Linked DNA regions of Homo sapiens. The protein of the gene in region 1 purifies or fractionates together with the protein of each later gene. This does not show direct contact. Each region holds a gene or a part of one and is shown in the gene's direction. Other genes may lie near its edges. The genes, in order: HEBP1 and COTL1.

Region 1 (3,818 bases):
CCCCACTTCCCTCCACTAGCCTTCACTATTGCTTGTGTCATCTTTCCCCTTTCTAACTCTTCCAGACCTTTTGAGTCAGCTCCTGTTGTGTTTCTGGAATCAGGGGTGTGTGTATGTTTGAGATTCCTCAGTTCCCATGGTAACCAAATTCTTTATTCAGAATACTGAGCTCTGACATTGGGTGAGATAAAACACTGCCCTGGAGGAGAGCTTCTTTCAAGATGAGGCGTTTATAGATAAAGACGTATTCACAGGCTTACAAAGATAATGTATAGACTTCACGTTTCTTTCTTTTAGGGGCTCAAAGCACTTTATGAGCATTTCTTAACTCACCTTCAAGTGCGCGCAGGAATTCGGAGAGCAGTGGGCCCACTGTTATTGTGCTCCATGTCCAGATTGGAAGCTGAGGCACGAACCAATGAGGCAAAGTGTCTGTGAACACAAGCAGAGTCAGCCAGAGCTAGGCTCCCTTCATACACCAGGGGATTCCGGGTAGGGTTCAGTTTCTGGCTTGTTTGTGCAGTTCTGTGATGGGAGTCAGTGTGGTTGGTTAAATTAGCAGAGAGGAGAACTCATGTATCTGTTCCCATAGCCCACCCAGTTTGTTTGTTTTCCAGTAAAAGGATTCTACGATGAAGCAATAGGGAAAATTTTATCTGCATTACCAGCATTTCAGTCTGCCTGGGAATAAATGTAAAGAATTGGGGGTTTTCCCGGAGTGAATTTTAGGACTCCCTGAGTGATGACATTCTCCATCTCACTCTCTGCTGGGTTTCCTTCTGCTTCTCAGCCCCTTCTCACTGTCCTTTGACCGGTCCTCTTTCTTCACCCACCATTTAGATATTAGGATTCTAAGGAGCAAGCTTCTGGCCTGCTGTTTGCACAACATCTCTACCACATGTCACTTCTTACCATGATTATAGCCAGTACCTACCCACTGGGCACTCCCAAGTTTCTGTCACTAGATCCTTCTCCTTCCCAAATTGGTATCTCTGACTCCAGTTCTGTCCCAAGTCTAAGGAGATTTTTACATGGTCAGACACACATTTAGATAATAATTGTTGCATGAATGTATTTCACAGAGGGCCCTTAATATTCATATGCCCCCCAAACTAAATCATGAACACCCCTACAGCTGCCCCTCCTGCCTAATGTTACTCTTCAGCCTTTAATCCCTATTCTGGTTAGCGGCATCTTCTTCTACCCAGAGGCTTAACTGGAAGCCCTGGAGAATCCTCTCTTCCTTCCTCTCTCTTACCTCCCTCCACATACAGGTACCTCTCAAATCTGCCTTTCTCCCACCTTCATCATCTCACACTTGGCTGTTCCTGGGCTCCGGTGGCCCCACATCTCTCAACCCCTTGCCATTTCCCCTGTCCCTCCACTGCCAGCAGAGGGATCCTTCCAAAGCACAATTGGATCGTGCCAGTCCTCTACTTTAAAACCCTTTCCAGGCCGGGCGTGGTGGCTCACACCTGTAATCCCAGCACTTTAGGAGGCTGAGGCGGGTGGATCACCTGAGGTCAGGAGTTTGAGACCAGCCTGGCCAATACGGCAAAACCCCATCTGTACTAAAAATACAAAAATTAGCTGGGCGTGTGCCTGTAGTCCCAGCTACTCGGGAAGCTAAGGCAGGAGAATCACTTGAACCTGGGAGGCAGAGGTTGCAATGAGCCGAGATTGCGCCACTGCACTTCAGCCTGGGTAATAGAGTGAGACTCTGTCTCAAAAAAAAAAAAAAAAAAAAAAAAAAAAACCCTTTCGTAGGTCTACCTGTGCATATAGGATGAGGTTCAAACTCTTTAGCATGGCATTCAAGGCCTTCGCATCTGGCTGCAGTGGATCCACTTCTCCTGTTTCAGTTCCCACCACTGTCCCCTCAGATGTTTATTATGTGAATGAGTGAGTGAAACTTATGTAACCACTTCACTCACTAGGTCCTAAGTGCTGTCATCTTTAGCTCTGTCAGGCTGAAGACATCACTTTCATTGTTTAGCCCAGAATTGTTCATTTAACCAAGGGGTCCAACATATTCAGGCACTGTGTTAGGTGCTCAGTGTACATCAGTGACCAAAAAATAACAAAAATCCTGCCATTGTGCAGCCTATATTCTATCAGAGGACACAAACCATAAACAATAAACTTAATGAGTAAATTATATAGTATGTTAAAAGGTGATAAGTGCTGTTAAAAAAGAAAGAAAGAAAAAGTAAAACATAGGAAGAAGATTGGGATGGGGTTAAAGAATGGGGTTTACAAGGTAACAAAGCATTTTAAGAATAGGCCTAATTGAGAAAGTGAGAATTGTTCATTGAGCCAGTTCATAATATTACTATGGTTTTTTTTAGTTGTATTTTGTGTTTTTGTTTTGGAGACAGGATCTCACTATGTTGTCCAGGCTGGAATGCAGTGGCTATTCACAGATGTGATCATAGCACAGTGCAGCCTCAACTCCTGGCCTTGATCAGTCCTCCTGCCTCAGCCTCCCAAGTAGCTGGGACCACAGGCATGCACCACAACACTCAGCTACATGGTATTTCGTTAGATTACCATCATGTCCCTCACCCTGGAGTCAGGGAATTAAAAGGCTCTTCTGAGCAAACTGCCAAGTAACAATAATAGCTACTGTTTGTTGTGAGCTTACTACGTGACAGGCTCTGCGCTGAGCAGTTTGCATAGTCTTTTCTCCTTTAATCTTTACAGTAGCCTTCGAAGATTGATGTTATCACTATCCCTATTTTACCAGTGAAAAACCTGAAGATTTGAGAAATTTTAGAATTAGCTTAAGACCTAGAAAGGGCAGCACTAGGATTTGAGCACACACTAGCCATTTTGCCTCTAACTGATGAAGGAAGACATTTGAGGAGCACTCCTTTGGAGCTTTCCAAAATCAGTATTTAAAGAGCCAACATTGTCCCTTTTCCTAGAGAACAGTTCAGTGTCACAGCACAAGTAGGGGGTGCAGAGAGCACTCAACACCTGCTTCCACCTCCAGCACTTGATTCATTTCAGACAAATGGTTCTCCAACTAAAGACATGGTTCATAAAAAACTCCAGTGTCTTACAGGCTCTTATTGCCTGAAAAAAGTCTTTCCTGGATGTTCATTGTCTGTCTACTAACCCAGTTTCCTCTCATTTGAACCTCAATGAAGCTAGAGCCCAACTTTCTTCATCTCCCTTATAATCTCTTCAATATATTTGAAGAATCAAGCCTCTGCTATTCAAAATTGGTCTCAGTTTCATCCATGTTCTGTAGCTGTTGTCTAGACATTGGAACAACCAATCCATTACAGAAAACATCCTGGGTGTTCACATCAGTGATGCTGCAATCCACATGCTGAATGCTTGTCCAGCATGACTAACCACTTGTAAAAGAGCAAAGCATGATTCAGAGGACTCCACCAAAAATAATGCATTATTTGGCCTAATCTTGGCCTGGTGCAAATTCAGACTTTTGAGTCATACAGCTCATTAGAAATCGGGATGTACTTGACTCTAATAAAAATTTTAGTGCAACCCAGATTTAGAGTGGTATATTTAGGCTAGGCTACAAGACAAATTTTGGAACAGAAGCACATGACGTAAGGGAGAGAATAATAATCTTGAAAAGAAAGGCTTTATTGCTTCTCTGTCCCCAATTTCTGCCATCAAAAGAAATACCAGATTTAGGAACAGTCTCTTTCCTTACTAGAAAAAGAAGGCTTTCATGATTTGAGCAGAAGAAAGGATTTATGAGAAGTGATTTCTTTATTTGGGGCATGTTTAAAGCTTGTGTGGGGCCCTCCCAAGTCTTCCTTGGGTCTTTGCCTTTGTTAGCT
Region 2 (3,818 bases), on another chromosome or scaffold:
TCACATACACTTAGTAACACACTGTAGTGGGGTGGGAACAGAAAGGATCTCAAGGGTGTTCTGTCATTCTGGGCAAATCTCTCCAAGCCCAGCCCATGAGTCTTATCTTCAAAAAGTAAAATAAAATAAAGTTAATATACTGAGGGCTGAACGAGAACATGAGTGAGGCTGTTCCTGGCACACATCAGCTGCTTGATAAAAATTAACCTCCCGTTCTCCACTTTGTTAGTGTTCTCAGTGGCTTTGCGCGCCAAATGCATTGTCTTTTTATTGTAAAGCTTGACTTCGGGATGCTCCTGGGCTCATCATTCTTGGCAATATGGCGACTTTTTTGTTTTTTATTTTTTAATTGTGGTGGAATTCATTTAACATAAAATGAACCTTTTTATGTTTATTTATTTATTTTGAGACAGATCTCACCCTGTCGCCCAGGCTGGAGTGCAGTGGCGCGATCTTGGCTCACTGCAACGTCCGCCTCCCGGGTTCAAGCGATTCTCCTGCCTCAGCCTCCCCAGTAGCTGGGATTGCAGGCGCCCGCCACCACGCCCGGCTGATTTTTGTAGTTTTAGTAGAGATGGGGTTCCGCCATGTTGGCCAGGCTGGTCTCGAACTCCTGACCTCAGGTGATCTGCCTGCCTCGGCCTCCAAAGTGCTGGGATGACGGGCGTGAGCCACCGCACCTGGCCTGAACCATTTTAAAGTGTACAATTCAGTGGCTTTCAGAACATTCACAGTGTTGTGCAAGCCCTACCTCTGTCTGGTTCCAAAACTTTTTCATCACCCCAAAAGGAGATGGTGGCTCTTTCAAGACGCCAGCTTTGGCATCAACTGGACCTTCTGGTTGTCTGACTTCGGACAAGCATTGTAATTTCCAGCCTTTGTTTCCTCACCTTTAAAATGGAAATAATGTTGATCACCTTACGGGCCTTTTTAAAAAGAACTTGATTGAGGTATGATGTATGTACCTCAAAATCAAGTCATCCTAAGTGTACTTTTTCAGTACTTTTTCGTGAATTTGTGGAGTTGTGCACCCATTACCACAATCCCAATTTTAGAACGTCTCTATCATTTCCTGTTCCCATCTCCAGCTCTGTGTAACCACGAGTCTGCTTTCTGTCTGTATGGGTTTGCCTTTTTTAGACATTTATACCAATGGCAGCTGACAGTACATGGTCTTCATGCCTGGCTTCTTTCACTCAGCATCCTGTTTCCGAGGTTCATCCATGTAGTTGCGTGTGGCAGCGCTTCATTCCTCTCTGTGGCTGAGGAATATTCCATTGTGTGGACGGACCGTGTTTTGATAATCCACTCCTCTGTTGATGGACATAGGGGTTGCTTCCACCTTCCATGATTCATATTTACTACTGTGTGTCATTCTCAGTACTGTGGCACTGTGCTGGTACACATAAGTGCTTAATAATTGTGGTTAGCCGGGCGTGGTGGCTCACGCCTGTAGTGCCAACACCTTGGGAGGCCAAGCTGGGCGGATCACTTAAGGCCAGGAGTTTGAGACCAGCCTGGCCAATGTGGCGAAACCCTGCTTCTACTAAAAATACAAAAAATAGCTGGGTGTGGTGGCAGACGCCTGTAGTTCGAGCTACTTGGGAGGCTGAGACATGAGAATGGCTTGAACCCTGGGGGCAGAGGTTGCTGTGAGCCAAGATTGCGCCACTGCACTCCAGCCTGGGCAACAGGCTTTTCTCTCAAGAAAAAGAAAAATGGTGGTCATTGTTTATGTTATTTCCTTATGGGCTTTTTTTTTTAATGTGGATGATTTTCTTACCTTTAGACGTGTTATTTGTGGTTTTGATAGCTTTTTTTTGTCAAGCTGTCCGTCATCGTTCTGAAATTTTGTTTGTTAAAGTCTTATGATCCACATATGGCAGTAACTGTGTATCATCATGGCTTAAGGGTGTCTGATAAGCCAGGTCACCTGGTTCCCTCATTCATGCCACAAGCGTTTACTGAGTGCATCATGGGTGCCTGCGGGTTCTATGGGTGAAACCTGTGTACTGCAAGAGGAAAGACTGACTGCATCCATTTTGCTGAGCCCTGTAGCCCCACAGCCTGGCGTGGTATTTGTTGAAAGAAGGCAGAGCCTCTACCCTCGTGTAACTCAGTGCGGGTGGAGAGCCCATGGCAGACCCAGGACTGGAGGCTCCTGCGTCATTAGGAACATTGGTGGCTGAAGCTTGCTTGTCCCAGCTGGCGAGAGCCAATTACGCCTGTCTCCTTCCACCTCCACGTATGGTGACATCACTTTGATAGCTTGACGTCAGCCACTGGGGGACTATTTACATCATGGATATGGGCAAAAGACACCAATCTGAGCTTTTGTCCTTTTCTTTTTTTTGGAGTGCCTGCACACCCGTGAGCCTTTCCAACCTCGTAACCTATTATTTTCCTGACGAGATAGTTTTTTACAGATGAGAAAGTTGAGGCACAGAGAATTGAAGGGACTTGGCCAAGGTAACAGCCCAAATTCAAGCCCCAGCTTCCTCGGGCCATCCCCACGGACATGGGAAGACGCAGCATCAGATCTGCCCCACTCCCTCCTCCCAGTCAGGTTTTTTCTGCCAGATGACTCTGCTGTTCAATTTCCATTGACTCTGCTGCTGAATTTCCATTGACTGACTCTGCTGCTGAATTTCCATTTCCATCTCTCATCAGGGTTTTCAGTGCTTTGCTTCCCAGTGTGTTGCCTGAGCCACCCTCACATCCTGTGCCTTCCTTCTTAATAGGAACGCTGTGTTTTCCTTTGTTCTTGCAGAATTTCGCTAAGGAGTTTGTGATCAGTGATCGGAAGGAGCTGGAGGAAGATTTCATCAAGAGCGAGCTGAAGAAGGCGGGGGGAGCCAATTACGACGCCCAGACGGAGTAACCCCAGCCCCCGCCACACCACCCCTTGCCAAAGTCATCTGCCTGCTCCCCGGGGGAGAGGACCGCCGGCCTCAGCTACTAGCCCACCAGCCCACCAGGGAGAAAAGAAGCCATGAGAGGCAGCGCCCGCCACCCTGTGTCCACAGCCCCCACCTTCCCGCTTCCCTTAGAACCCTGCCGTGTCCTATCTCATGACGCTCATGGAACCTCTTTCTTTGATCTTCTTTTTCTTTTCTCCCCCTCTTTTTTGTTCTAAAGAAAAGTCATTTTGATGCAAGGTCCTGCCTGCCATCAGATCCGAGGTGCCTCCTGCAGTGACCCCTTTTCCTGGCATTTCTCTTCCACGCGACGAGGTCTGCCTAGTGAGATCTGCATGACCTCACGTTGCTTTCCAGAGCCCGGGCCTATTTTGCCATCTCAGTTTTCCTGGACCCTGCTTCCTGTGTACCACTGAGGGGCAGCTGGGCCAGGAGCTGTGCCCGGTGCCTGCAGCCTTCATAAGCACACACGTCCATTCCCTACTAAGGCCCAGACCTCCTGGTATCTGCCCCGGGCTCCCTCATCCCACCTCCATCCGGAGTTGCCTAAGATGCATGTCCAGCATAGGCAGGATTGCTCGGTGGTGAGAAGGTTAGGTCCGGCTCAGACTGAATAAGAAGAGATAAAATTTGCCTTAAAACTTACCTGGCAGTGGCTTTGCTGCACGGTCTGAAACCACCTGTTCCCACCCTCTTGACCGAAATTTCCTTGTGACACAGAGAAGGGCAAAGGTCTGAGCCCAGAGTTGACGGAGGGAGTATTTCAGGGTTCACTTCAGGGGCTCCCAAAGCGACAAGATCGTTAGGGAGAGAGGCCCAGGGTGGGGACTGGGAATTTAAGGAGAGCTGGGAACGGATCCCTTAGGTTCAGGAAGCTTCTGTGTAAGCTGCGAGGATGGC

The links.
Region 2: the proteins of HEBP1 (region 1) and COTL1 fractionate together in Homo sapiens (co-fractionation; one large-scale study listed by BioGRID). This does not show direct contact.

What each region holds. Positions count from the first base shown.
Region 1 is NC_000012.12:12,976,138-12,979,955, reverse strand, and holds part of HEBP1 (heme-binding protein 1), read left to right. Parts: intron 1-67; exon of another isoform or gene 68-119; intron 120-333; exon of another isoform or gene 334-525; intron 526-934; exon of another isoform or gene 935-1,015; intron 1,016-3,818.
Region 2 is NC_000016.10:84,565,908-84,569,725, reverse strand, and holds part of COTL1 (coactosin-like protein), read left to right. Parts: intron 1-2,770; coding exon 2,771-2,881; 3' UTR 2,882-3,818. UniProt on the Homo sapiens protein: Binds to F-actin in a calcium-independent manner. Has no direct effect on actin depolymerization. Acts as a chaperone for ALOX5 (5LO), influencing both its stability and activity in leukotrienes synthesis.